Regions from separate parts of the Homo sapiens genome. Here regions 2, 3, 4, 5, 6 and 7 are each reported to be linked to region 1. The links are microRNA targets in miRTarBase. Many come from high-throughput screens and were not tested one by one. Region 1 holds a microRNA gene; each other region holds the end of a gene's coding sequence. Distances are between the middles of the regions.
The links. The annotated mature microRNA hsa-miR-1324 reads CCAGACAGAAUUCUAUGCACUUUC and lies in region 1 at 1,718-1,741, opposite strand. An mRNA with a match to its seed (bases 2 to 7 or 8) in the 3' UTR can be bound and repressed. Matches are read on the target gene's strand: a 7mer-m8 pairs with bases 2 to 8, a 7mer-A1 pairs with bases 2 to 7 and ends in A, and an 8mer does both.

Region 2: the mRNA of SLIT1 is a reported target of hsa-miR-1324. The part of its 3' UTR that is shown has no 7-base or 8-base seed match.
Region 3: miRTarBase lists UHMK1 as a target of hsa-miR-1324. Seed matches in the 3' UTR shown: 8mer at 2,265-2,272.
Region 4: miRTarBase lists FAM3D as a target of hsa-miR-1324. Seed matches in the 3' UTR shown: 7mer-m8 at 3,249-3,255.
Region 5: the mRNA of KLHL38 is a reported target of hsa-miR-1324. Seed matches in the 3' UTR shown: 7mer-m8 at 1,168-1,174 and 7mer-m8 at 1,540-1,546.
Region 6: miRTarBase lists CSDC2 as a target of hsa-miR-1324. Seed matches in the 3' UTR shown: 7mer-m8 at 3,461-3,467 and 7mer-m8 at 2,457-2,463.
Region 7: the mRNA of HILPDA is a reported target of hsa-miR-1324. Seed matches in the 3' UTR shown: 7mer-m8 at 2,191-2,197.

Annotation. Positions count from the first base shown.
Region 1 is chr3:75,628,020-75,632,563 of GRCh38, reverse strand. MIR1324 (microRNA 1324) reads right to left here and starts at 1,801; the gene lies at 1,706-1,801. It also overlaps the pseudogene CLUHP10.
Region 2 is chr10:96,998,512-97,001,511 of GRCh38, forward strand. It overlaps SLIT1 (slit guidance ligand 1), which reads right to left. Exons shown (of 37, transcript NM_003061.3): 37 at 1-2,839. The coding sequence ends at 2,601. Among named protein-coding and RNA genes, the nearest start is that of SLIT1-AS1, 100 kb to the right of the region's middle.
Region 3 is chr1:162,521,094-162,525,637 of GRCh38, forward strand. It overlaps UHMK1 (U2AF homology motif kinase 1), which reads left to right. Exons shown (of 8, transcript NM_175866.5): 8 at 1,311-4,544. The coding sequence ends at 1,457. Among named protein-coding and RNA genes, the nearest start is that of UHMK1, 26 kb to the left of the region's middle.
Region 4 is chr3:58,630,805-58,635,348 of GRCh38, forward strand. It overlaps FAM3D (FAM3 metabolism regulating signaling molecule D), which reads right to left. Exons shown (of 10, transcript NM_138805.3): 10 at 3,142-3,564. The coding sequence ends at 3,475. It overlaps FAM3D-AS1 (FAM3D antisense RNA 1), which reads left to right. Exons shown (of 4, transcript NR_134853.1): 3 at 1,735-1,856; 4 at 3,252-3,636. Among named protein-coding and RNA genes, the nearest start is that of FAM3D-AS1, 26 kb to the left of the region's middle.
Region 5 is chr8:123,642,111-123,646,654 of GRCh38, reverse strand. KLHL38 (kelch like family member 38) reads left to right here. Exons shown (of 4, transcript NM_001081675.3): 4 at 627-2,213. The coding sequence ends at 916. Among named protein-coding and RNA genes, the nearest start is that of KLHL38, 9.4 kb to the left of the region's middle.
Region 6 is chr22:41,573,942-41,578,485 of GRCh38, reverse strand. CSDC2 (cold shock domain containing C2) reads right to left here. Exons shown (of 4, transcript NM_014460.4): 4 at 1,820-3,753. The coding sequence ends at 3,591. It overlaps PMM1 (phosphomannomutase 1), which reads left to right. Exons shown (of 8, transcript NM_002676.3): 7 at 563-678; 8 at 1,046-1,586. The coding sequence ends at 1,168. Among named protein-coding and RNA genes, the nearest start is that of PMM1, 14 kb to the left of the region's middle.
Region 7 is chr7:128,457,309-128,460,308 of GRCh38, reverse strand. It overlaps HILPDA (hypoxia inducible lipid droplet associated), which reads right to left. Exons shown (of 2, transcript NM_013332.4): 2 at 1,891-3,000. The coding sequence ends at 2,849. It also overlaps the pseudogene EFCAB3P1. Among named protein-coding and RNA genes, the nearest start is that of HILPDA, 2.9 kb to the right of the region's middle. RefSeq lists an enhancer at 640-934.

The DNA.
Region 1 (4,544 bases):
AACAGCCTTACCAAGCCCAAGGCCAGGCCAGGCAGTCTGAACACTACGAGGTCACGTGATGGTCACAGAGGATGACAGCTCCCATGAGTATTCTCAGGCACTGTGTTAGCTTCTCACTCACAGAGTCTCAGAATGCCTCCTCACCAATACCCTGTGAGGGAAGGCCCCACCTCACTAGAGCACAAGAGGTTCCTGAGCTCTTCCCAGAAAATGGTTATCAAAGGGTGGAGCTGGGGGAAGCCCAGACAGAACAAGTGAGTCCCCAGGGTCTCCTTAACCTCCCTCAGCTCCTCCACATGCGGCCCTGAGGGAAAGTGAGCGGCCTCCTAACCCCTTTGATAGGGTTCCAGTACTGCAGGTCTGGACTTCCTTATTTTCTGGAATCATAGGAGGTGACAATGCAAACCCAGGCCCCTTATTTGCCATCCCTCAATGCCAGGCCAGGCCCAGAGCCCTGTGCTGACACAGCCCAGGGGATGCTCGAAACCCACCTCAGCACAGTCACCAATAGCATAGTGAGATGAGCAAGGAGGTGCAAGTAGGCACAAATCCCCATGGACATGGCCTCAGGCATGTTCCACAGGCTCAGGGTCTCCCTGATGAGCTCCCAGCCCTCCTTCAGGGAGCCTGCAGAGCACACCCCCAGGGAGCAGTGCTCAGATGAGCAGGCAGACCCCAGATCCCCCACCCCAGGATGCTCTGTTCCACTTTGCAGGGCTGCTGCATTCGCCAGTCCCCACTGCTTTCTGGTGGGATGTTTGAGTTGAAGTGAATGTTGAAGGGCATACAGCTGACGGAGCTGACTGCCTTGCAGAAGTTGTAAATCACCTCCTGGCTCCACGGGTCAGCTGTGGAGACACAGCTTGATTGGAGGTAGCCCCCCTCTACCATCAGTGGTGCTGGGCTGCCCTGATCTGCACCTTCCAGCTCCTTGCTGAGATGTCTTCATGCTTCTCTAAGGGACTGGGTCACGAGACACCCCTGGGAAGGCCCAGCTGGCAGAATAGGCTGGACACTCTCCCTCAGCCTCCCCAGCAGCCCGGCCTGTGCTGTCACCTGTGCTGATGATCTCACTTCTCTATCTTAATAACAGCACTGATAACTTTTAAGCCCTAGCAAGCTGAAACTGCAAGACAAATGATCTTCTGCCTTAGAAGGGCTATGGTTGGGCAGTGTGTGCCCAGGTGAGAGCCCTGTGGTTGTTAGTAGAAATAGGGAGCTGGATGGGCCTGGCCCCATAGCCTAGTGGAAAGTAGGGCCCTCTCCTTCCAGAGCATCAAAGTCTTAGAGGCTAGAAAAAGGTGCTTGGGTGGGCTGCCAAGAAGCAGAAGGCTAGAAGGCTTTGCAAGGAACCCCAACAGACTTCAAGGTGCCTGAGAGGGCTGGGCTTATTCCAGCTTTCTTTGCTTTCATCCTGTTAGCAAGAAAACCTGCTCACAGATGGCAGGTGGGCCTGAGGCTGCCAGTCACTCACCAGGGGCTATAGGTGCCTTGATTGTGGCTGTTTCTTGAAGCAGCTGCTCAGGCCGGTTATTGCAGAGCAGTTCCCTCATTATCCACAGGTCCTTGTTCCAGCCCTGGCTCTGCAAAGGGACTAGGGAGGGACTAGGCAAGGGCTCAGCCTGTGCCCCACAACCTGCTCTGAGATATCTCTTTTGTTACTTCCTCATGGACAGCCTCAAACTTCCAAATGAACAGACCAGCATGGAGCCTCCAGGAAAGTGCATAGAATTCTGTCTGGTACCCAGAGGGAAGGGGGTTCCCAGTGAGGGCAGGACCAGGCTTCATGCACCTCTTCAGGAATGTTCTCCTCATAGTCCAGCCTCAAGGTGTGCATCCTCTGTGTGCATGGAGTCCATGGCAGGCTCTGCCTGGGGAGCCGTCCAGCTGCACACCTGCAATGTGGTGGTGACCCTCTTGAATGGGTGGTTCTGGGCCCCATGGCTGGCAGCAGAGAGGGAGATGTTCAGCCACCAAGCCCAGAGCCCTGCCACAGGCTTCTGTGAGGCCTCCATCTGCTCTGGGTTCTTGCCCTGAGAGGCTGCCCTGAAGTCAGACAGAAGCAGGTGGGCCTCTCTTCCAGGGCTGCTCTCTCCCCCACTGACAGCTCCCTAGAGGGCGACTCAGACAGTGGGGACAGATTCTTCAGGCAGAAGCACTGGAGTTTAGGCTGGCCGGTTCATTCCATACCCCCACATGACATGACACAAGGCAGAGGCTGTGGGACAAAGGCATTGCCTTTTCTTCTGGCATGAGGAACGGCTTAGGAAGCAGGGGATGGTGGGGCTGGGGTTGAGTGATGGGCTGTGGGCCACAAGGAGTGGGTGGGCACTGAGCAAGTGTCCTGGTTGTCTGTCCACAGACCCAGAACGAGTGGCATCCCAGGAGCCTGTGAGGGGCTGGCAGAGACTTACTGGTTCCAGTAAAAGCCCCATGTGGATGCAGTAATGCTGCCTGCTGGTCCTTGGCTGTAATTACAAACAGGTACAAGAGGTACCCATGCTTCTTGAAGCTCTCAGGGAGTGGGTTCCAGCTGCTCATGGTAGGCACTTTTAGTCACTGAACGTGCTTCAGGTATGTCCAAGTTTGATTAAGCCAGGCATCTTGCTGTGAGGCCCTCCACTTCACTAAGGACACTCTTCCTTTCTCCCCCTGGAAGTTGGACCTTCCAGTTCTGGTTCTGGAGACACGATGGCCCCCCCTGGACCTATATTATCCTGGCTCCTATATTTACTGTCCCAGTTCTAGTATCAGACATTTCTTCAAAGAGCCTGATTCCTTTCAGAATGGTAGGAAAACTTGCATCTGGCTGCTGAATGAGCACATTGTATCTTGTCCCTCATTGGCAATGCTAGGAAGTATATGTGTGTGTCTAACCTACCTATACACACCTAATTATAAAGTTTTCTATGTAGAACTGTGTGTATCTATATTAAACTAAACATAAGTTTACATTGATGTCTCCACCTCTGATCTACTATCACATGAATCATTCTAGCCTTCTCGCCTTGCTAATTTGTAACCTCCCACTTCAACAGTGAGAAACCTGGTTCCCACCATCTGTGACTTATGTAAGTCATTGTTTTATTCCAGATACAGACACCGTGGTTTTACAATTGTTCACAATTGCTTCTGTTGGAAAGAACTTTATAAAATGGAATCCAATGATGAAGTATAGTTCATTTGCCATCAGCCTACAGATTCTATTCATTTTCAAAGTTACTTAGGTCAACACCATTTTCCCTACACCTTCAGTGAGTTTTTACCTACATTTGTGTCTTAGTCCATTTTGTGCTTCTGTAACAGAATACCTGAGGCTGCATAATTTATAAGTAAAAAAGGTTCATTTGGCTCACAATACTGGTGGCTGGGATGTCTGAGATTGGGCAGTTGCATCTGGTGGGGCCTCAGTCTTTTTCACCTCATGGTGGAAAGTGGAAGGGGAGCAAGGGGTGCACCAGAGATCACATAGCAAAAGTGAAAGCAAGAGGGAAGCCAAGGAAGCCAGACTCTTTTTAATTACCTAGTCCTGCAGGAATTATCTATTCCTGTGAGAACAGAACTCACTCACCCCCATGGAGGACATTAATCTATTCATGAAGGATCCGTCCCCACGACCCAAACACTGTCCACTAGGCCCCACCACCCCACACTGACACAGTGGGGGTTAAATTTCAACATGAGCTTTTGCGGGGACAAACCACATCCAAACCATAGTAATTTGTAGCATAAATTCTTTTTCACATGATGTATTCTGTCCTGGGATACTCCACATCCTGAGTAATTTTATTTAATTTGAATAGAGTTTGCTTTAACCATTTGCCTGTAAAATTCTGCATATTTTGAAAAATGCATTGTGGCAGATATCCCACTATTAAAGTATCATATGGAATGCTTCAAACCCCCACCCCATGGAGCCAATGGCTTCCCATCTGTGTAGTTTGCCTTCTCCAGTGTCTCATTAAATGAGGTCACACTGTGTGTATCCTCCTCAGACTGTCTTCTTCCACTTAGCAATGTGCATGTAAGATTCACTCATGTCTTTGTGTGAGTTGATAGCTTGTTCCTTTGTATGGCTAAATAGTATTCCATTACATGAATGTACCACAATTTGGTTATGCATTTTGGGGAGCAGAACCTTCCTTTTCTAACTTTGTTCCAGGGTTGGAGACCTTAAAATTAACTGACAATAGATGCATTAGTAGGAGAGACAATACTTGGCTTCTTGTTCCCCAAGTATCATTGTGGGACAAAATTCATCAGATGGCAGGATCCAGTTCGCAAAGAGGTAAAAATAGTCAAGAAACAAGAAACAAGACTAGAATCTGATAACCCACAATGGCTATAGTTTTCCTTTAAAAAAATTTTTTTTGAGACAGGGTCTGGCTCTTTCACCCAGACTGGAGTGCAAAGGTGCAATCTCAGCTCACTGCAACCTCTACCTCCTGGGTGCAAATGATCCTCCCTCCTCAGCCTCCTGATTACCTGGGACTACAGGCACACGCCATCATGCCCATCTAATTTTTGTATTTTTGGTAGAGACA
Region 2 (3,000 bases), not on the chromosome of region 1:
AAAGGGGGACAAGATGTGGAGAGAGGACTTCTCAGAGGGGTGATTTTGCAGTAGCCACCTTCCGGACTTTCAAGCGGAGTGTGAATAGGCAACGTGAGTGCTGACTCAGGTCCTTAGCAACTCGCTGGCTGATGGCCAAGTTGGAGAAAAAGTTGATCCTGGGGCACACAGCTCTCACATCATCTCATGGTGGATTCCAATCCTCAGACTGCACTGAGGTCAGCGCTGCTGTGCTAGGAGGCTGGGCCATGTGGTGGGGCCGGTCAGGGGAGCCTTAAGCTCACATGGTGCTCCCTAGGAACAAACATGCCAGCCGCTCACCTCCCAGCCCCATGGCGCCAGGTGAGGGGTGAGCATCACCTGTCTACAGGTGTCCTTTCCACCTCCTGCAGAATGAAGAGGCCTCCTGCCAGCCAGTGCCCTTCAAGCCTGGGAATTGGCTTCTCCAGGGTGGTGGGGAATGGTGGTGGCCAGGAAAGCTATCTTTCTCAGGGTTGGTGAGTCCCAGAGCACCTTTCTTCCAGGGAAGAGGCAAGCTAGCTGCCCTTGAGCTTTTCTGCCCTATCCAGCCCGGTGCAGATGCTCTGCAGGGTCCCACGGTGGCCTGGAAACTCAGAGAGGGATGCCATGTGGGCCTGGGAGAAGCCCCATGAGGCCCAGGCTGCAGTCTACTTGGGGGTGGGGGCGGGCATTGTGGCCTTGCTCAGAGCTCCAAGCAAGTAGATCCCAGCCCCCTGGTGAGGGGCAGATCCTGCCATGAGGACACCTGCCACATTGGGCAGGGCACTGCCCTCTTCCCATCACAGGGACCCCAGGACTCACAGTTGCTAGATTGAGTCCCCATGGCATGAGACATGCCAGGCACCTCTACCCCAGTTCTAGCCTTCTAATCAGCATCAAGGGCTCCCCTCACTGCCCTGGGCAGGGGACAGGGACACAATGCCACTCTGAGCCTCACCTGAACATACACCCAGCCATGCCTCCTGGTCACAGATGGAGGGAGCCAGGGCAGGGACATGCTCACCCCCGTTGCCCACCAGAACCCCCGGGGGTGTGCCCTCTTGGTGAGCCCTCTGGGGAAGGAGAGTGCAACTTTGCCTCCCTTTAGCCCATTCACAGTTTGGCCTCACAAACCATCTTTCTACATTTTCACTGTGTATGGAAGAGAAGACAACGTGGGCAGGCAATCGTATATTCAGGGCCTCTTCTTCTTCCACCACTGGCTCCTTCGTTGCCAGCAACTCCCTGGCCTGGGCCGCTGTCTGTGGCTGGAGCCCCCACTCAGCTCAACTCTTCCCGGGCATCCTGGTCATTCCTGCGATGCTCTGGGATGAGTTCACATCTGTCCATTAGGCCAGAACGTCCACAATCCCCAGCCCCGGGTTAGGCACATAAATACTTTTGATGTGATCAATGTAGATAGATAGATAGATAGATAGGTCTTCTAACTCCTCTGGCCTCCCAAGACCACAGTGGGGGAGTCTGCACTGTTCCTTTAGTCATCCCGCCCCCCACCTCTGGCCATTTTATAGCTGAAGAACCCAAGGCCCAGGTGGGGAGAAGTTTGCCCCGAGTGATAGAGCCAGCAGGGACTTCCCAATGCCTGGAGCACTGTCCCTTCCACTGCTCCCTACTGGCCTGCGGTGTGAAGGACTCTGAACCAGCTGCTCCCAGGTCAAGCACCCTGGCCCAGACCCTCACACCCAGTCCCTCTACCAATAGGTCACCGACAGCTTGTGGCTGACTGGTGGCTGGGGAAGCCCAGGACCAATACTCCTACTGTGGCCAGTGTCTGGAGGCAGATGATGTTTGTTTATCTAGAGCAAAGAACCCTCTGCCCTCTTTAGTGGGGTCTGCCACCCTGAGCAGCCCCTGTGACTGTTTCCTCCACATAAGCCCTCGCAGCTACAGTAGTCATGCTAGAACTTTAGGATTCAGAGGCCTGGTCCTAAGAACCACCTCCACCCACAGCCTCGTTCCCAAGCCGTGGCTGCAGAGCTGCCAGTCAGCCCAGGGGGCAAGGGTCCGACCCTCCCTGGCCAGCAGGAGGCGGCACCCCCGCTCCAGAGCCTGGCCTACCACCAGCAGATTCTGTAGCAGCAGAATGAACCAGGCTGGCTTCCCGGGGAGGCTGACAGTACTTCATGGTTGCCCGCAGAGGGGTAAGAGGCTTCTGGGGCCACAGACCCAGTTCCAAGCCAGCCTGGGCCACAGGCCAAAGGGAAGGGTTGGTTTGGAAGGCTGTCATTTTTCTTCTCCAGATTCAGATAGCAGGTAAGGAGGGGTGTCATCGTTCTGCACTTCTTGGCCTGACCTCACGCACACATTCACTCAACAAATATTTATTAAGCGCCTATTTGTGCAAGGCACTTCCGGAGAGGGCAGCCCGCAGCTCAGGCCTCGCCCACCCCCGCTGCCCCCAGCTATGGCGCAATTTGCTTTTAAAAGGCTGCTCTGGCACCACCCCACCCAGGAGGGCCCAGCTGCCCAGGAGCCGTCCTGTGATGACCTGCACCCCAGCCCAGCTGCTGGCGACTGTCTCCGCTGCTGCAGCGGCTGGGGCCCCTTGCCCGCCCTCACCGGCCTGTCCACGCCCAGCGCTATGCGCAGAGGGCACAGCCACACTTGGTGGGCTTTTCCACCTCCTCGGCAAAAGAGGTCCCATCGCTGCACTCAAAGGTGAACTTCCTCCGCTTCAGCCGAAGGCCCTGGCAGCAGCCCTGGCCTGGGCACGAGCCCCGGCACTCCACCCATGACAGGGGGCGCGTGGTCTGGCAGATGGCATAGCCCCTCTGGACCTGGTGAAAGTCCCGGACAGGGTCCCCCCGGCACTCGGACTCTGGATGGGACAGACACCAAGAGAAAGCCTCAGGGCACACCCATGGGTGAGCTGCTGCCTCCAGGGAGGCAGGAGGAAGAGGAGGAGGAGGGCAGCATCTGTGGGGTGGATCCTTTGGCTCTCAGACCCCACCTCTGTCCCCAGCATACTTCCGCCTCCCA
Region 3 (4,544 bases), not on the chromosome of region 1:
AGTTGTCGAAGCCATTCTTCATTTGAATTTTTAATTCAAGCAAACATGATTTTATAAGGAATGTTACAAAAAACACTGAAAAATAATGAATGCATCTGATAATGCAATTATAAAAATAATCAGAATTAAAATGATACAGCCCTATTAATTTCATAATTTATAAAAATAAGATGCCTTTCTTAGTGTGGGATGGTGTAGTATAGAAAAGTATAGCCTATCTGAAGCAAGGAGTATGATAGAAAACATGATATTCCTTCTATAAATGCATGTCTACTCATTTATCGAACTTTGCTCTATAGGTTTGGGCATAATTAAGAATCAGGTAAAAAAAAAATCAGGAATAGATTCATTATTCCTTTTTGGGGTGGGGTCAGGGAGGGGACAGGGTCTTGCTCTGTCACCCAGGCTGGAGCACATACAGTGTCGTGATCTTGGCTCATTGCAGCCTCGACTTCCTGAGCTCAAGTGATCCTCCCAACTCTGCCTCCCAAGTAGCTGGGATTACAGGCATGTGCTATCACGCCCAGTTAGATTTTGTTTGTTTGTTTTTGAGATGGAGTCTTGCTCTGTTGTTGCCCGGGCTGGAGTACAGTGGCGCAATCTCAGCTCCCTGCAACCTTCGCCTCCCGGGTTCAAGTGATTCTCCTGCCTCAGCCTCCTGGGTAGCTGGGATTACAGGTGTGTGCCACCTTGCCCAGCTAATTTTTGTATTTTTAGTAGAGACACGGTTTCACCGTGTTCGTCAGGCTGATCTCGAATTCCCGACCTCGTGATCCACCTGCCTTGGCCTCCCAAAGTGCTCAGATTACAGGAGTGAGCCCCTGCACCCAGCCAAATTGTACTTCCTAATAGGTGCAATTTCCAGCAGCTTTTGACCAATATTTTTTCCTTTTTCACTGCTAAAAGTACAGATTATCATCCAGGTACCATTGAAATGCAGTTGCTGTCTGAGCTATTCAGCCGTATCTTTGGCAGATGTCTAGTGTTATTCATCACTCCTGTAACGACCTTAGCAAAAGATTGTACATGATTCACACAACTTGTCCTTGAGAGATTTTTCAAAGTTGAGCTGAGTTGTGAGGAAGTATTCTAAACCTTGCTGTCCTGAAGTATAGTTCATAGACCAGCAGCATTGGCATCACCTGGAAGTTTGTTTAGAACAGAAACTCAGGCGACATCTCAGACCTAAGGAAGCAAAATCTGCATTTTAATAACATCTCCAGTTGATGTATATATATTAAAGGTGGTAAAGCACTGGTCTAAAACAATCTTGGTGGAAATGAAATGTTTTTTTCTCTGTCTTCTTTCAGGTCTTTGTTGAGTATGCAAATGCTGGTGATTCCAAAGCTGCGCAGAAATTACTGACTGGAAGGATGTTTGATGGGAAGTTTGTTGTGGCTACATTCTACCCGCTGAGTGCCTACAAGAGGGGATATCTGTATCAAACCTTGCTTTAATCAGTAACCTAAGGACTGTTTCCTTTTTCTCCTCTTCCATTTCTTGGGTTATTCCACATATGAATGCAGGACTACCCCCTTACCATTTTAAGAAGGTACTTTATACATTTATTTAATCCTACTAATGTGCAGCCATTGCCCAAGCAGTGACTGCGTTGCATACATTTGGCACTGAGTAGGACAAGACCTCTCAGCTATACATTGAGGGGTTTTAGAGCATCCATGTGGGCAACCCTTTTTTGTGCGGGAGAGCAGGTGTTGCTCTTCAGTATGTAGCCTAAAAAAATCTTAATTATTTCATGGATCATGAAGCAAGGATGAATAATATCATGTCTTGGTAAATACTAACAAATTTGTTAGGTTTGGTGACATCATTTACAGATTATTTCTTTATGTTGTCCAGTGGTTCTTCCTTATTGTTGATATCCATAAGCTGGCACTGGATGCTCTCAGTAATGTTAAGTAATTGTCAAGCAGCAGTTACCTACTGTGTTCTTAACACTGAGTTGTGAATTTTTTCTTAAAGCAGTACTGTAGTACTGAATATTCCTTTAAAGGAACTGCAGTGAGCCTATCTAAGTTTTTTTAAATTAAGGCTTTTAAAATAGAAAGCTGATGCTTGATCTTGCACAATTTTTATGTCTAGTATGTATGCTTGAGTGAATGTGCGAGTATGAATGATTAGAGAAAATTTGAGTCAGTGTACTTTATAGTGTGAATCCTGTGAGCTAATACAGTCTATACTTATTTCTTCCCTACCTGTTTCACATCCGTAAGATTTAAGATATACATTTTTTGAGAGGTAGTCTGTCTGATACAATGTAAATGACAAAACATAATTCCTGAGAGGCCCAGAACAAACTGGAGTCTAGCCTGGAGTTAAATTGAGACTTCTAAAATGATTGGAACAAAGACTAAGTTGTGCCAGATGTAAATCAACCCCTCTTTTAGTTTACTTTAGACTTTGTATTAGCTCATCTTTTTTGTAGTAAATCTATAGTTTTAAGGTTTCTCAAGATGTGGCTCTACCTACTATGATGAAAATTGAAGTGGGTCAAAAGAATTAGATGTACAGTGAAGGGAAAAGAAAAAAAATGGGCGAAGAGAGGGTGGAAAATAAAAGGATTCTTTTTTCTTCCTTTCTGTTTCTCGTATCCCTGCTCCCTTTTTCCTCCCCTTCCCTCATTCTTTGCCTCTATCCTTAGCTGAAGACAAACTAGAGGAGCAGCATCCCAGGTAGTTTGGCTTTTGACTGCAAGGTAGTTAAGAAAGGTGTAGATATAATGAGGTAGAAGTAGAAAGGAAGAAAAACTCAAAGAATTCTTAAAAGGATTCATAGCAACATAATGTGTCCCTGAGTAGAGGATGCTGCTATGCGTGAGTTCATGGACACAAGTTGATTACATGGTTTTTAGAATTATAATTATGGATTCTTCTTATTTCATGGTAGGTTGTCTTTAAAGATATAAAAATTAGGATGCCTTTATGAAGCACTGATTATACCAAAAAAAAAAGACAAGTTATATACAGGTTATTAATTTTTTTATTTATTTATTTTTTCCTAAGGAAAAAGTCTTCTATCTTTCCCTGCTGGAAGCCTCCTCATATTTCCTTATGTTTGCCATGCAGGTTGCTGAGAGTCCAGTTAGAATTTGCATTTTACAGAATGAAATACTTTACCCCATTCAAACAATTATTGTTTGACATTTTAGTTATTTATAATTGTCAAATTCAGGACTCTCCTTTAATGTTTATTATGAAACCAAATTTGGCATAAGGAGGCTGATTTATGAATTACCAAAGGGTCTTGTGGCATGTTCCCCAATACATGCCCTTAGAAGGAAGAACTATTATTTTTTATTTTGGCCCTTTCAGGAGTTGATTATAAATTGGTTTGTTTTCAAGTCAGAATTCAAGTGGGCAGAACCCGTATTGTGAAGACCTAAACTTTCCTAAATGTTCATATGGGTAGCAGATTTTGTGGTGATTAGAAACATCAGGTCCTTAAATACGATGAACATGGGATACAAAGGAATTCTTTATAAGGGCAAGTATCCTAAGTTAGCACATTTACTTTTCTCTCCCCTCCGCCCCCAAAAGAAAAATCCTTACAAATAAACTGCAGGTAGGCTTCTAAGCCTAGTCCTGCAGTATGCTGCTAACATCTTGATGCCAATCTTCACAGCATTCTTTGATTGTCATCTTATTGCTGATACATTCATACATATATTTAGTGCTTGACACTGTAGAATTTTGTTACAGAAGATGGTTACTAGATTTTAAGGGAGCTGAGGGAATAATTGATGAGCCTTGAATTAACCATGCATTTAATTAGATTTTTTGTTGTTGTTGTTGTTGTTTTGAGATGATGTCTTGCTCTGTTGCCCAGGCTGGAGTGCAGTGGCTCAATCTCGGCTCACTGCAACCTCTGCCTCGCAGGTTTGAGCGATTCTCCTGTCTCAGCCTCCCCAGTAGCTGGGTTTACAGGCGCTTGCCACCACACCTGGCTAGATGTTTTATATTAAAGCCAGAGAATTGAAAAAGAAATGCCTCCTGTGATTGAAATTATTTTATAGCTCTTAGCCCGTTCTACCAAAGATCACATTAGCAGATTACCCCTCCCTCCTGTGATATTATCTTTCTTAAACCTGAACCAAATATCAAAAGATACAAGTTTCATGATTAGGATGAAATATATACATAGGGATTTTGGTTTATTGAAGTTATTGAAAGACCTAGAAATTTTCTTTTTGAGAGAAAGGGTAAAGAGGTGAGGGTTCATGTCACTTAACCCCTACCCTTTTGGGCAAATTTTGTCTCAGGTAGTGTTTCATTCCCTAAATTAATACCTGTGCTTCCTTGCCTCTCACCTTCCCAGTTACTTCTTTGGGGTATTACTGTGGCACATTGTACACCCAGAAAAGGCACATACAGTGATTATTTTGTGGGAAATACTTGATTCTTTTGAAATATATTTGGAGGGGGTAGCTAGCTAGCCACTGTCAAAACTAATGCTGTATTTACAGGACAAAAACAAGTAGAGTTGGACACCTCAGTAAGAGACAGCATTAACTAAAAGTACTGACT
Region 4 (4,544 bases), 17 Mb from region 1:
TGTTCATGCTGTTCCCTGGCCTGACATGCCCTTCCCTCCCTTCTTTGCCTGGTGAGCTCCTACACACTCCTGAGGGCTCAGCATGGGTGCTGCTTTCTCCAGGATGCCTTCCTGGATCCCCCAAGGCTGGGGCAGCGGTCCTGCAGTCTTTCCCCTTGCCAAGCCATGTCGCCTCTGGATTTGTATCCCCTGCTAGACTGAGTGGGAACGGTGCTGGGTTTTCTTCACTGCAGCATCCCCAAGCCTGCCGGACTCTTGATGCATATCAGGTTTGCTGAGTGATGAAAATCTTGGCGATAAAGACCCAACTCTTTACAGCTTGAGCTGACCTGGGGGTCCCTATAGTGGCCACAATGTCCTGAAAATGACGTTGAGAGTCTGACAGGTGTTTGCCACTTTTGTAACACCCACCCAAGAGGGGCCTAGTGTGGCTGGCTCGAGAATGCAGTCTCCTTGATGGGTTATGGGGGTACAATGATGGCTACTTGGGCTTATCTTCTGACTTATTCTGGGCATCTGAGGAAGGAGTGGGAAGCTGGAGTGGGGCATGATCCCTAATCTTTGCCTTGTGTTCCCTGGTGTGGAACAGCACGTTGCCTCTTCCATGGGCTCCACATGGCAGTGGCAAGTGCAGCTCCCCCACTCTGAGCTCTTTCTCCTTGAGAACTGATCCCTTTTATGACAACAATTCCTGCAGACCTGGAGGTCTTATCTCCCAGCCCAGGCTCAGGCTCAGTCCCATCCAGCTGGCCATGCCCACCACCTCTCTTAGGATGGGTACCCCAGGATCCCACTTCGGGATAGGGATTGTCGTGTAGGTGATTTGTTAAGGACTGGCCCCTGGGGACACTGGTAAGGGAGTGGAGGAGCAGGATGGGAAAGGGGAAAGAGGTAAGCAAAGGGACACTTTCAGGCAAAGTCCCAGTTCCCGCCTGATCCCTCTGGGAATCCTGGAGTGTAAATTGCACCTCGTGGTCGTCATCATGCCCCAAAATAAAGAGCTGGCCTTTCACGTTCCCATACCTGCCAGTCATTAGCTAAGGACCATCCTGGGGTGGTGTACACACCCCCAGCTTCCTGGTCTGTCTTCTTTGCACTTGTGCTCAAAGAATGTATGAGTAGCCCAAGGGCAATTCTCCAAAGAAGAGTTCAGACTGACCATTAGTAACAAAATCTGGGAAAGGGCACCTGGGACGCTTCCCTGAATTCTCTGATTGAGCCAGTTGACATGTTCTCAGTCTTCTTTGAAGTGTTGTGCAGTGCAGTTTCTGGAAAAGTCCATGTGTCTTCTCTTCAATGAGGCAGCTACCCCATGTCTTAAAATAGTGGCCACTGCCAAGAGCCCTCTGCCTAGCCCTGGTCCCTGCTCATGAGCTCATTTTAGAGGTCTTTATATGTTCTTTAAAAATTTTACAAGGTACTCCTGCTTGTTGTAAAGTGAAATTTCCGAGCTCTCAAAGGTGTTTATGGTCATCATGAAAATTTCATGCCACCTTCATTCCCAGAGCAGGTTTCTGGGCAGATGTTTTTCCAGGTAGTCTACTGATGTGGTTGGAAGTGGTTATTCAGGCCTGCCAGCATGCTCCCGCTTTCATCCGTGAGGGTGAGCTGGGGTGGGTTGGGCAGGGAGTGACAGAATTGACAGGATGTCTGGATGGGCACCTTCTGACTTCCTCAGCCAACCCTGAGCACGGCTCCCCGCCGGCTCTTTGAATTTTTTTTTTTTTTTTTTAGATGGAGTCTCGCTCTGTCACCCAGGCTGGAGTGCAGTGGTGCAATCTCGGCTCACTGCAATCCCCGCCTCCCAGGTTCAAGCGATTCTCCTGCCTCAGCCTCCCAAGTAGCTGGGATTACAGGTCAGTGCCACCATACCTGGCTAACTTTTATATGTCGGCCAGGCTGGTCTTAAACTCCTTGCCTCAGTTGATCCGCCCACCTCGGCCTCCCAAAGTGCTGGGGTTATAGGCGTGAGCCACCGCACCTGGCCTGGACCTTGATTTTGATATCACTGCAATTGTAGCCCGTGTCCCACCTGCCGTGGCCCCTGGTGGAAGGTTCACACACACTATTGTCTCTACCCCAGGCTATCTTGGCACATTTGAAGTGCTCCCTGGCCCCAGGACTTGGGAGCTGTGAGTCTCAGACCACTGGTGGGCATCTGTGCTTGGGCAGAGGGTTTCTTCTCCATGAGGTGTAGTGTCCCCAGCACATGCTCCAGGAGGCTGAGTAGCAATGCTTTCTGCCCCCACGACCTCCTTTCAAGACTTAGTCTAGAGCCTGGGAACTGGGCCCTTCTCAGAAACCTCAGGCAGGTCTTGACACCGTATCCTTGGGCCTTCCCATTTCAATGTGCTCCTGCCATTGCAGCTGGCATTGCCATCTCTTGGCTGGGGGCTTGCTGTGAAGCCACAGAGGGCCACTCTTCCCTAGGCAGGGCAGACAAGAAGCACCTAGGAATTCATATCATCCCCAACACCAGAAGCCCTCAACAAACCACTAGTGGGAGTCGGTGTGTAAATACCCCAGCTCCCTCACTCCCGGGTGGAGTATCTCCAAGGTGCATGTTCTACCCCGATTCCTAGAGCTTCGGGTGGGAGTCAGCTCCAGTCCCCACAGGGGTAGCTGGGTTGAAACCATACCCTTCACTGGCTGCCTTCCCCTCCTTCCCTTTGCCATCTCACTTCCCTACTTCTCTATTGGTGTTTCCCACAATCACCTCCCAAATATACTGGCTGCCCTTGAGTCCTTGTCTCAGGGTCCGCTCCTGGGGCGGAGACAGCCCGGCTGCCTTCCCTGAAGCCTGCAGCACAGCCTGGCGGCTCCTTCCAGCCAGGTTCAGATGTGCCCCTCCTCTCCCACTCCTGCTCTGGACTTGCTCCAGCTCTCCTTCAGACAGAGGGTGATGACAGTATTTCTTGCATCCTGTCCCTAGCTCCCTCTGTTCCTGTCCATCCCACATGTTATGCAGGAACTGAGGATTCTCTCAGGCCCATGGGAAATCCTAGAAACACAGCTCCCTCCCAGCTGCCTAAGGGGGAGCCTGAAGCTGTCACAGACCTGTCTGAACCCATGGCCCATGCTGAGTCTGGAGCAGTTCAATCCCAGGGAGAAACGTGGCCACTGGAGTGGTCAGAAAGCTCATTCAAAACCAGCAAAAATAAAATTTAATTGGGCTCAAGTCTGGGCAGTTTGTCCTTCCTCAGGACCAGCCGTCAGCAGTCCCTGACGAAAGCACCCCATTCTCTCCACAGACAGCTGGTTCCAGAAGGACCCTCTGAGGCTGGTCTTCCGGGTAGGATGTGCTGTGGGAGGGTTCTGTTTCCGAGGAGGAGAGGCGCGACACAGCGTGCAAGGACCTGCAGCACCTTCCACGCAGCACCCCCTGCTCCTCCTCCTCAGCCCCTGCCGGGCTCTGACTCCTAAGTCAGGCAGGAGCTTCTTCAGGCCCCTGGCTGAGGAAGAGCCACAGCCACCCTAAAATGGCTTCGGGGGCATGCAGCCCTCCATCTCCAGCAGCTCTGGCCATCCCTCGTATTTGTTTGTGTCTGGGCTGTTCTTTAAGAACTAGAGAGAGAGAAGACAGAGAAATATAGGCAGTGAGTGAGGCTGTTCAGAACTCATGCCCACATGGACACTGTGCTCTAAACCTAAATGGGGGTGTGGGATGTTATTAACCCACTTCACAGATGGGGAAACTGAGGCTCAGAGAGGGGATGCAACTTGCTCAAGATCTCAGAGATGGGATCAGAGCCCAGTTAACTGCTCTCACGCCCTGAAGGGTAACCAGTTGTTGGAGAGATCTGGCCCCTCCCCACAAATTCTCTGTGTCCCTCTAGGATACCTCAAATAACAATAATGATAGCAACAATAAAAAGAAGACTCCGACCATGTCTTGAGCGCTTGCTGTATGCCACGTGGTGTTCTGCAGGGCCTTATGTATTTAATCTGCACAGTGGCCCTAGGGAGTGTGCACTGTTTACATCCCATTCTACAGATGGGGAAGCTGAGGCACAGAGGGTCACTGCCCGTAGTCACTGGCTGGTAAGTGGCAGAACCACCACATAATATTAATTAATACTAATAATAAGGGGTGGGGTGCAGTGGCTCACACCTATCATCCCAGCACTTTGGGAGGGTAAGGAAGGAGGGTCACTTGAGGCCAGGAGTTCAAGACCAGCCTGGGCAACATGGGAGACCCTGTCTCTAGAAAACATAAAAAAATTAGCTGGATGTGGTGGCACATGCCTGTGGTCCCAGCTACTCAGGAGGCAGAGGCGGGAGGATCGCTTGAGCCCAGGAGGTCGAGGCTGCAGTGAGCCGAGATTGTGCCACTGCACTCCAGCCTAGGTGACAGAGCGAGACCCTATCTCTAAAATATATATATACTAGTAATAAGTATGTAAGAAGAATAAAATCACTTAGGATTGTGTCTAAAATGCTCAGGTTTGGATTATGAAAGAAAAAAACGTAAATGGCAAAATCTGCTGTTGGAATCATTGTGGCTGACTCTCAGGAATTAAAAAAGAGATTCTAGATGCTACCTG
Region 5 (4,544 bases), not on the chromosome of region 1:
AAGCACTTAGCACTATCCCAGATACACGGTAAATAAAACATGTTTGCTTCTGCTTATAATATTAGCTACTAATAGTTTGTTTCTCTGTAATCAAATCATAGTGTCATGGTTAAGAGGACTGGTATTGGGGTCAGATGGAACTGGGCTCAAATCCTGGCTCTGTCACTAACTGGCTATATACTTTTTAGCAAGTTAAACATCTTTCTGTGCCTCAGTTTGTCCATCCATAAAACGAGGATCCTAAAAGTAACTACCAGATAGGACTGGTGTGGGGAACCCACTTCTGAGTTTCCAAAGGATTGTCATAGTTCTTGAGTGGGCATTTGAGAGAGGAAGAGGCCAATGAGGCTGAGAAAGTTACAGGAATCAGGAGGCCGCTCCCAATCTAAGAATGGCTTATATGCTGCCTTAACTTGGGGTGAAGGTCAGAGTCAGGCAGATTTGCGTGCCAGCCCCCACTCTGCCACAAAGCAGGCCTTGGCAGGTTAGCTCAACATCCCACGTGCTAGTTCAGAGCCCCAGCCTCAGCCTTACGCAGTGGCAGGAGTCAGACGCGTCCCAGGACTGCTGACCTCCAGTCCCAGATGAGCAACACTGAGCTTGCCCATGTGTCATTTGGTTTTCAGGTTACACAAGGAGGATTCTTGCTTATGACCCTCAATCCAACAAATTTGTCAAATGTGCGGACATGAAAGACCGGAGGATGCACCATGGGGCCACAGTGATGGGAAACAAACTCTACGTGACGGGCGGGCGGCGGCTGACCACGGACTGCAACATTGAGGACTCCGCCTCCTTCGATTGCTACGACCCCGAGACGGACACCTGGACATCCCAGGGACAGCTGCCGCACAAGCTCTTTGACCATGCCTGCCTCACTCTCCAGTGCATACCCCGCACGTCTGGCCTCCCATGAGGTCGACAAGAAACCTTCTGCCCTAGTCAAAATGCCTTCTGTCGCCAGGGACACAAACCCAGCTCCAAAGGGCTTAACCCTTAAAGGCTGCAGGGAGAGCTCACAAGACTGAGGTACCAGAGTCGGGAGGCCTGGAACTAGGCATTGCATTGCCAGAACTCTCTCTCTCCTTCTCTGCCTCTCTCCTTATCTCTCTCCCCCACCTCCATCTGTCTCTGTCTTTCCCCCTTCTTTCTTTCTCTCCCCTATCTCTGTCTGTCTCTCTCTCTCTCTCTCTCTCTCTCTCTCTTTTTCTTTTTTTTGAGATGGAGTTTCACTCTGTAGCCCAGGCTGGAGTGCAGTGGTGCTATCTCAGCTCACTGAAACCCCCACCTCCCAGGTTCAAGCGATTCTCACGCCTCAGCCTCCTGAGTAGCTGGGATTATAGGCATGTGCCACCAAGTCCAGCTAATTTTTGCGTTTTAGTAAAGACAGGGTTTCACTATGTTGGCCAGGCTGGTCACGAACTCCTGGTCTCAAGTGATCCACCGGCCTCAGCCTCCCAAATGCTGAGATTACAGGCGTGAGCCACCACGCCTGGCCTGTCTCCTTTCTGTCTCAGTTTCTGTCTCTCTTCTCTCTCTCTGTCTGTCTCCCCCTCTCTGCTTCTCTCTCTTCTCTGTCTCTCTGCCTCTCTCTGCCCCTCTCTCTCTCTCTCTCTCTCAGTCTCCCCTCTGTCTTCCTCTCTCTCATCCCTAGGTTTTCCTCTCTCTCTAGCAATCTTCTTCATTTACCCACACAGTGTGTGGACAATGACAAATGATAAACCCAGACTCATTTTCCAGCTTTATATCTTCAGGAGAGAACTTTGCCATTATCCATATATTAAACCTAAAAAACAATGCTTATGGGCCTCTTTTGAATTCCATGTCTACCTCTTGAGCCAATCACTGTTGCCAGGACTGGCTAGTCCTGGACCACATCCCCACAGACAGAGGTGGGGTTACCTGTTGTCACTGACAGCCCATCCAAACTGCATATAATGGGTTAGAAGCATTTCCCCAAAGAGAGAAATCCAGACAAAAACCACATCTGCCCAGGACACCACTGAAATCTGGAACAAGAGGGCTGAGAGAACCCAGAGGATTCCTGGAACTGCTTGGTCCAGGTGGCAGCGTGAGAAATTGGCCCTGACCTTGTTTTTCTGCATTCTATGGATGTAGTACATTGAAATTCCAGAGATATATGCACAATTCAGTATCTAATGTTTGTAAAATTATCCTGCATTGCCAGAATAAAGTTTGTTTCTGGTGCCAAATGATGTTTTTCTGCAGCCTCTGGGGAGCTATAAACCTGCATAATTAATCAGGATGTTCATTTTGGTCAGTGTTATGAGGATTGCTCTTCTGGGGAAAGTCAACAAATTCCTTCAGTGCTTACAGCAGTCATTGCCCTCAGATGCCAGGGCTGACTATCTCTATAGCTCCCGTTATCTCAAGGTGCCTCCCACACTGGCTCAGTCCCAAACACAGGAATAAGCTGAAGTGGAGAACAGCAGTTCTCAGCGCTGCCTGCACAACACAGTCATCTGGGAAGATGTTTGAAAATGGGGCCAGCTCCATTGGAGAAAAATGAATAGGGATGCTTTGAGGCTGGGGGCAGAACACTGTATTTTTTGAAAAGCTTCCCAGATTTTTGAAATGTACAGTCAGGGTCGAGAACCACCGCTCTGGTCAGCTGTGAGCACGGAAGACCTGCATGGCTGGTTTCATTCCCCTCCTGTCATGGTCAGCCCGTCTGAGCCTAACAATGTAAGCTAAGTCCTCTCCCCACCAACGGAAGCATCTGCCATCAGTCTTGCTGCCCTGAGCCTGGCACCAGAGTTCACTCCAGCTGTAGCCTTCCTCCCCATCTGGCTCTCCAGGTTCATGTTCTAGACTTTTCCTTCTTTCTAAGTTGTCTTTTTTGTACTTCAGATTCTCCTCCTGGGGTCTGAAGCTCTGCTCTGCTCCCCAGATCTCTTGGCTGTGGTTCAGAGACCCTGCTTGGATTGCCAGCCCTGCTCCTCAGCCTGGACACTGTCCCCTTAGCTTCTGGCTGGCATCTTGTTCCAACCTAGTCTCTTTAAACCCCCTCTATTCAGGCTCTCAGTCCCACCTCTATTAATTCACAGGACAGTTGATTGTTTAAAAGGGCATAGAACACTTCCCCTCTCTTTTGCTCCCTCTCATGTGAAATGCTGGCTCTCTAATATGGTTTGGCTGTGTCCCTACCCAAATCTCATCTTGAATTGTAGCTCCCATAATATGAGAGGACCCTGGTGGGAGATAATTGAATCATGGGGGTGGTTTCCCCCATACTGTTCTCATGATAGTGAATACGTCTCACGAGAGCTGATGGTTTTATAAAGGGTTTCCCTTTTCATTTGGCTCTCATTCTCTCTTGTCTGCCACCATGTAAGACGTGGCTTTCACCTTCCACCCTGATTGTGAGGCCTCCCCAGCCACATGGAACTGTGAGTCCACTAAACGTTTTTTTCTTTATAAATTACCCAGTCTTAGGTATGTCTTTATCAGCAGCATGAAAACGGACTAATACACTCTCCTTCCCCCTCCACCATGAATGGAAGTAGCCCGAAGCCCTCACCAAAAGCAGATGCTGGTGCCATGTTTCTTGGACAGCCTGTATAACCATGAACCAAATAAACCTGTTTTCTTTATTAATTCCCCAGCCTCAGGTATTCCTTCATAGCAGCCGAAAATGGACTAACACATCCCCTCTTTCTTTTTCACACTTGCTGTGCCCTCCCCTTGAAAACATTTGCCCCACACATCATACCCACATGGTTCACTCCCTCAACGCCCCCAGGTCTCTGCTCAAAGATGCCTTCCTTCCCTGACCACCCACCCTTCACATAACCCATCAACAGGTCCTGTCTGCAACACCCCTGGGAAATAGATCACAAACACCTCCAGCTTCTCCATCTTCACTGGTGCTTCCCCAACTCAAGCCATCCTCATCTGATCAGCCTCCAAAATGTGCCCCCTGCTTCCACTGCTACCCCATGAGCCTTCCTTGAGCAACAGTCAGAGTGATCTTTTTTTTTTTTTTTTTTTGAGATGGAGTCTTGCTCTGTGGCCCAAGCTGGACTGCAGTGGTGCAGTCTCGGCTCATTGCAAGCTCCGCCTCCTGGGTTCATGCCATTCTCCTGCCTCAGCCTCCCAAGTAGCTGGTACTACAGGCGCCTGCCACCACGCCCGGCTAATTTTTTGTATTTTTAGTAGAGACGAGGTTTCACCGTGTTAGCCAGGATGGTCTCGATCTCCTGACCTCGTGATCCGCCCGCCTCGGCCTCCCAAAGTGCTGGGATTACAGGCGTGAGCCACCACGCCCCGCCAGAGTGATCTTTTTAAAACACAGACCTGATCATGTTACGCCCGTGCTTAAAATGATTCCATGGCTTCTCAGAGACCTTTGCATAAAGCCCCCAATCCTTTATGTAGCTTCTAGTTCATTCCCTAATCCAGCACCCACCTATCTCTCTGGCCTCATCTTTTGCCACCCTCACTCCTTGAAGTTGTCTCAGGCCCAGCCATCCTTCTTTACTTTACACCCTCCTCTCTTTCCTCAGGGCCTTGGCATGTGCAGT
Region 6 (4,544 bases), not on the chromosome of region 1:
AATCCCACCGGTGCTCACACTTCCACTGCCAGCAGCTTGTCCCAGGCTCCAACTGACCCTGACACAACTGGGCTCCCCTCTGCCACCTCACCCATTCCCCAGTGGCCAGAGAGGCTGGAGCTGGAGTCATGACATGCCTCTGCCCAAAGTCCTCCCCAGGCTCTTCCTCCCTCTCCATGTGATGCCCAGGGCCTGCCCGTCCTCCCCCTACCTCTCCTGGCCTCCTCCGTTGCTGGGACGCTCGTTCTCTTCCCTGCCTCAGGGGCTGTACTTTGCGCCCCAGCCATCCCCACTCGGCTCAGGTCCCAGCTCATTGCCACCTCCTCAGAGGTCTCCCCTGATCACCCTGGCCGGATGAGCTTCCCCCACCCACTTCATGGTCTTGTTCATTCTCCAACCTGTGTCATAACTTCCTTGAGGATCCTAAGTCTGTCCCGTGTCCTATTCCTGGCCCTCAGTAGGCACTCAAGGGTTGTTGAATGAATGAATGAACAAGCAGCCCTTCTGTTAGCCTTGTCTGCCCCTCCCAGCAGGGAATAACAGTCCCCACCCCTGCCCACAGGAGGCATGATCAGCTTTGACGTCTTCCCCGAGGGCTGGGACAAGCGCTACTGCCTGGATAGCCTGGACCAGGACAGCTTCGACACCATCCACTTCTTTGGGAACGAGACTAGCCCTGTGAGTGTGGCCCACCCCAGGTTTCCCCTAACGCAGTGGACAGTGAGAAGCCAGGTCTGGTGGCTTCTCCAATGCAAATCACCTGAGGTCAAGGCCAGAACATGGGGCAACACAACAGACCTCTTAGGGGGCTCCTGGAGAACAACCATTGCTCACCAGCCCCGTTACACAGATTGGAAAGCTGGGGCCCCAAGAGGCTGGGCACTTGTTCTACATCACACAGCAAGTCAGGGCAGGTCTGACAAGGGGTGAGAAGGTGGGCTTCCTGGCAGTTCTGAAGGGGCAGGAGGAGGGGCAGGTCCGTAGCAGCCAATGTGGAGAGGGACTCCACCTAAATATCCCTCCTCTGCCCATCCTCTGTGTGCAGGGTGGGAACGACTTTGAGATCTTTGCCGACCCCCGGACTGTTGGCCACAGCGTGGTGTCTCCTCAGGACACGGTGCAGCGATGCCGGGAGATTTTCTTCCCAGAGACAGCTCATGAGGCGTGACCGGGGCCCACATCTGTGTGTCGTGACTTCTGAAGAGTTTGGCCTAGGCCTAAAGAGAGGTCCTGGTGTTGGATAGATGCCAGGGCCCCTCCTCTGGCCCAGGACGCCTGCTGCAAGCCCACCCAGATGGGGCCAGAGTCTGTGTGGACAACCGTCCCCAGCCAGTCTGCTCCTAGTGGCACTGGCTTCGTCCTCCCAGGGCCCAGAGTGTTCCCCATGCTCCACCTGGTGGCCCAGGCCACAGCTGCTGCTTGTATTTCGGTACAGAAGAGGTTTCTTTCTGCACCAGGAGGAGGCGTGCTCAAGTATCGGTACGAGATCTAGCCTGCCCTGCCTGCCTGCCCTGGGCGATGAGGTACGGTGGGGAAGGTGCCTATTTTAGAGAACTTTGTCACAGTATTAAAGTTCCCAGAACAAAGTAGGTGTCAGCTGTGTCTGAATGGATAATTGGCCCCAGTCACATGCTGTCACAGCCACTACTTTGCCGACAAGTAAACAGCACAGAGAGGGCAGGGACTTGGCCCAGGTCACAAAGGAAGTCTGATGCAGTCGAGGAGGGGGCCATTGAATCCCCAAAGAAGAGCTGGTTTGGTGTGTCCACCCCCAGCCCCTTCCTTGGGGACCCTGACACAGAGGCAGCTTCAGGCCACGGTGGGTCACAGTTGAGGGTTTATTGCCAGTGTTAGGAAGAATGGGGGGTCTGGGTGGCCAGGGGTCTTGGGAGGAATTCCAAATGAGCACTGCAGGGCCTGTGAGTGGGGAGGAGAGCTGCTGCCCCCCTGCCACCCAGGAGGCCCCAGGGCTGATGCCACCATATCCTGACTGCTAGTGGTGCCTTAAAAGGTGGCCTCCCCACAGGAGGGGAGCCTTGGGGGCCCCCAGGAGTCAGCCCTCACCAACAAGCCCTCTCTCAAGGGGGCCAGGGGCCTTTATTCCTCATGGGACAGGCTGGGCCGTGCCCATTTTAGGGGAGCTGACCACACCTCAGCAGCTCTGGGCTCCCAGATTTTATGTGGTGGGCCCTGGGGCCGGGGGTGGGATGCAGGCATCCCGGCTGATTTCTACCCTGCGGTCTTGGGGCACCTACAAGGCAAGGGATCCTCCTAGACAGTCACTGATCCCCTCATCCTGGGCATTTGAGCCCCCAGTTTTACTCACAGACTGAGTCTCATAAGGGTCCCACCCCTGGCCAGCCCTCCCTCGAACCACGGCCCCACTTCTCCCCGGTCAGGCGATGTGCTCTCTAGAAGGGAGGGTGGTAGGCAGGGGGTGCACCCAGAGGTGGAGGCAGACAGGGCCCTCCTTCCTGGCCTCCTGGGCCAGGCCACCCTCACCCCTGCCTGGGAGTGAATGGCCACGACCCCGGGTGCACACACATCTTGGCCCCAAAAGGACTCCAGGTGACAGCAACAGCCACACATCTTCAGGGATGGATGCAATAAGAGCCACACCTCGGCCACTGGTCTGTTAGGGCTTTGGGAAGAGAGTTTGACGTGGAGGCCGCAGGGCCAGTCTCCCAGGCTGGGGGCCCTCCTCGTGGGTGCCCCGGACGTGTGTCCGTCCCTCGCGGCATCCACAGCAGCCGTCAGCCGGGCATGGCCCAGAGCATCAGTGGGGCTTGTGAGTCAGGGTAAAGGAGGTCTGCAGCCAAGCTGGAGAGATGGACCCCCACCCTCTGCAAACCCCTGGGCTCGGCTCAGTACAGCCCAGGGGAAGGAGCCCAGCGCCACTGCCAGGCTGAGGAGGAGGGACTGGCCGGCGAAATGGGAGCCCCAAACCCCTTCCGCCCTCAGGCCCCTCTTCCTGCCTCTCCATGGCACTGAGAGAGCAGAGCAGGAAGGAAGGCTGGCCTCGGCAGTGAGAGGCCTGTGTGCCTCCGTGTCAGTCCTCCTCCCCTGCCAGAGGCTGAGAGGCTCCCCAAAAGCACCCATCGGCCAGGCTTCTGAGGGAAGGGTCCAGGCTGTGGCGGGGGACCTCAGCCAAGGGAGGGAGATGTAAGTAGCACAGAGAGCCTGGCTCCGGGCCAGGGACTGACACGGGACAGCTCAGGGGCGGAGGCCAGGGAGTGAGCCCAGCGCAGGCTCTCGCAGCTCAGTCACCGTGGGGACGGGTAAGCAGGAGGGCGAGCGGGTCCTGCGTGTCTGCGGCAGGGAGGGGAGGAGAGAGGCAGTGGACAGCGCGAAGCCAGGTCTGGTGGCCTTGCCCTCCACCTACCTCCTGGCCAGCTTGCACAGTAGTCACGGGTCGTGGGGTGGGTGGAGGCACACGCTCATAGCCACAAGCACAGACGGACAGACAGACGTGCACACTGAGGCCACCGAAGGACTCATCAGCCAGGGCAGTGGGGCATGGAGCCGGCTGCTGCCCGTTCACCCTGTGTGGCTCCCCAACCCCCGGCCAGCTGGCCTGTGAACCACTCAGCCTAGGAGCCCACGACCTGGCCAGACCACGTCTCGTGGGGAGTGTGGGGGGCCAGCTGAGTGAGCACCACCTCCACGGCCTGGAACTTCTGGTTCTTGGGAGGGATAGGGCACATCTTGTAGGTCACCTCGTCGCCCTCCACTGGCACGTACTCCCCCTCGATGCTGGCGGGCAGGAAGAGGGGTATTAGCCCAGCAGCAGGCCCTGTGCCCCAGACAATCCTGTGGCCTGGCCTTGGGGGCAGCCTGGCCCTAAGCCTCCCTAGGCCAGGAGGCCTGGCCAGGCCTTGCTTCTCAGAACCTCAGCTCTCGAATCTGTAAAACGGGACTCATGGCTGGGCACAGTGGCTCACGCCTGTAATCCCAGCACTTTGGGAGTCTGAGGCGGGCGGATCACCTGAGTCAGGAGTTTGACACCAACCTGGCCAACATGGCGAAACCCTGGCTCTACTAAAAGTACAAAAATTAGCCAGGCATGGTGGCTGGCACCTGTAATTCCAGCTACTTGGGAGGCTGAGGTGGGAGAATCGCTTGAACCCAGGAAGTGGAGGTTGCACTGAGCCGAGATTGTGCCATTGCACTCCAGCCTGGGCGACAGAGCGAGACTCCCTCTCAAAAAATAAATAAAATAAAATAAAATGGGACTCATAAACTGTACCTCCCTTTCTGGGTCCCTTGGGGACCGAGATGTGAAAGGGCACGGGGAGGTCCCTAAAGCTCTGAGAAGCTCAGTGACCTCCCCCGGTCCTCCTGGCATTAGAAGTGGGTGGGGCCAGGCCTAGACATGATATCCATCTCTACCTCCTGGCCCACCCACATGAAGGCCCTTTCCAGGCCAAGAGGCTCAGGAGCTGGCCTAGCCCTCTCAGACCTCCACGATGCTGTAACAGGATCCAGGGCCCAGCCGCTGGCTCCCAGGCTTCTGGGGTCTGCGTGCCCACTCCCTCCCTGGCCCC
Region 7 (3,000 bases), not on the chromosome of region 1:
CGGCCTCCCAAAGTGCTGGGATTACAGGCGTGAGGCACTGCACCTGGCCTGAACTTGCAGTTTTCTAAATGAGCTGTGCATAGGCTCATCTCCATGCCTTTGCTCCCGTTGTTCCCTCCGCTGAGACACCTTTTCCTAAGTTGGCCAGCAGCCTACAACCTACGCATTTTTAAAAAATTGAGATCCTCTAAGAAGCTTTTCCTGAACACCCCTCTCCTGCCTACAAATAACTTTATATACCCACTATCCTGTATACGTATTTCTATCACAAAACCATGACACATTATTTGTTCACATGCCTTCCTCCCAATACCTTGTGTACATCTGAGGCAGGTAGCGATGAGGTATTAGCTGATGCCTGGCATCCAATAGGTGCTGTACACAATGTACCAATCAGGATAAGCTAAGTTACACTTCAGTTAACAAAACCCCCAGATATCAGTAGCACAATTCCTGTGCTACAGTGCGGGTATCAGTCACCTTCCCAAAACAGGCCCAGTCCTTTTGCAGGGGGTGGGGGGTAATGGGAAATATAAGAACATACCCTAGAGAAAGCAACATGTCTAGAAGTCTCTCCCACATCACAGTCAGATTGGACAGATTAAGGGCCCTGCGCCATGCATCCTCATTCCAGGACCTACACTAATGAACAGTTCCATAGGAAGCACTGCTGGTCACTGCACAGAGGGAAAAAGAGGTCCTCGCAGGTTTCTCCAGCACTGAAATGCTCTCACGTAGAATTAACGCAAGCCACTACCACTCACAGCTCATTGGCCAGAACTAATGACATGGCTCCATCCAACCACAAGGGGGTGGTGGCACACAGATCACTTCAATTAAACTAAGCCACTTGGAGGAGAGACTTAAGGTGCAGGCTCTCCAATTGAAGGTTCAAAAATACCCCAAATTAGAAGCATGAGAATGAGAAAATATATCAAATATAAGAAATATGACTAGAAGAGGGTAACTACTGGCACATGAAACTGAAACCAGAGAAAAAGCCAAATAGACTTTTGAGAGTAGTACTATGCTAACAAAGTAACAGTCATATAAACCCTGCCAGCCACAAGGGGACCAATTTACCATGTACCCGAAAGGTGGGAAACTGGAAATACTTGATAAATAACACTAGTGACAACCACTGTGCAATAAATGAAAGTGATGCTTAACCCACAGGCTTCTAGGGTAGTGACATTTTAAGAACACTCAGGAAGCAAAACTGGCTTAACAGAAGACACTGTACTTCATTGTTGCGCTTTAGCAAAAGTCAGTCAAGTTAATAAAATGATGCACACGCCCAGATGGGAGTGTAAATAAATATATTCTGAAGGGCAAAGGAGTGAATACAATTGTACGTGGGACAGGAAGTACAAGAGTGATGGATACAAGAAAAAAAAACCCCTCCAACTTTTGAGTAAAGGCCAAGTTGCTTAGATCTGGGAGAGCAGATATAATCATCTGTGTGGTGTGGACACTTTACCAACTGACTTTGAGAACAATCTGAATTAAGCAGCCTTTTTGGTGGGTAAGTAAAACACGCTGAAGAGTACAAAAGAAAAAGCCCACAGCCTCCTGGACTGATAGTCCTCTTTGCCCCAGAGACTCAAGGAGAGGGGCTGGAAGTGGTGATCATTTTTCTTCTTCTTTACAGATCTAGTCATGACAGGCCTGCAATAATCGTGGCCTAGGCTCACATAACTGGTTGATACATGGCAGACCCAACTGCCTCTGCCCCCAAATTCAGAAGTCTACTGATACTATGTTTTAAACAAAGTGATTTAAGCACTTTCCTGCTCCAAAGTATTGAGATGTTAAAATTAAACCTCAGGTCTAGAAATTAAGACCCTCCCTACCACGAATTTCAAGAGCAGAAGTCAACATGACACACAGTAGAAATATATATTCCACTTTATTAGTTAGAAAAAATCATTTAAGCCACATGGTGGCCACAATGTCCATAACTTGAGCAGGCTTTGGCATCCCACCACCCCCTTCAGACCAATACACACTATGTTGGAGGAACGACTTTAAAATGTAAAATGAGAAATGGGCACTGAACACTCCATCCTCACTCCCAACAGCCCACCCACACAACCTCTTCAACTGCTATCCAAACATGGAGGAGCTCTTGTGGAAGAGAGGCTCAACACCAAATAATTGAGCATAAGACATTCAAGACTAAAGGAACCCCAGACAGATGTTTAGGAAGTAGGGTTGAAAATATCACCATCTCCCAACAGCTGAAGTTGGGACATCTAAGAGATGTCAGAGCCATACTGCTGAGGAAAGCACAGCATACACCAGACCCCGGGGTAAGGGCGAGATCAACCTATCTCATAGCCATAAGCAATCCACTCACACCTGTGCATTAAACAGGCTTTTTCTTTTCTTTTTTTTTTGAGATGGAGTCTTGCACTGTGGCCCAGGCTGGGTACAGCAGTGCGATCTCGGCTCACTGCAACCTCCGTCCCCGGGTTCAAGCAATTCTCCCGCCTCAGCCTCCCAAGGAGCTGGGATTACAGGCCTCTGCCACCACACCCAGCTAACTTTTGTATTTTTAGTAGAGATGGGGTTTCGCCATGTTGGCGAGGCTGGTCTCGAACTCCTGACCTCAGGTGATCCACCCACCTCAGCCTCCCAAAGTGCTAGGATTACAGGCATGAGCCACCGCAACCGGCCTAAACAGGCCTTGCCCAGGCAATGAGCATCCAGTTAGACAGGTTCTTCAAGGCCTAGTAATAGTTCTCTGGTTACAACGGTGCTCAGCTTGTCTGCTAGGAATGGGACTCCCATCTGGACATGTCTAGGTCAGTGTTCCAAAATATGGCCAGTATGGAAGGAGGTCTTATCACATGCTTCTGGATGGATGGTCTGGAAGGCCCTTGGTGGGCTCTGTGTTGGCTAGTTGGCTTCTGGTGGTCCAGGAGGTCCCAGGCGATGGGCTCTCTAGTAAGCCCTCTAGGGACTCCATCACTCTAACGAAGATGGAGAGTAGGGTCA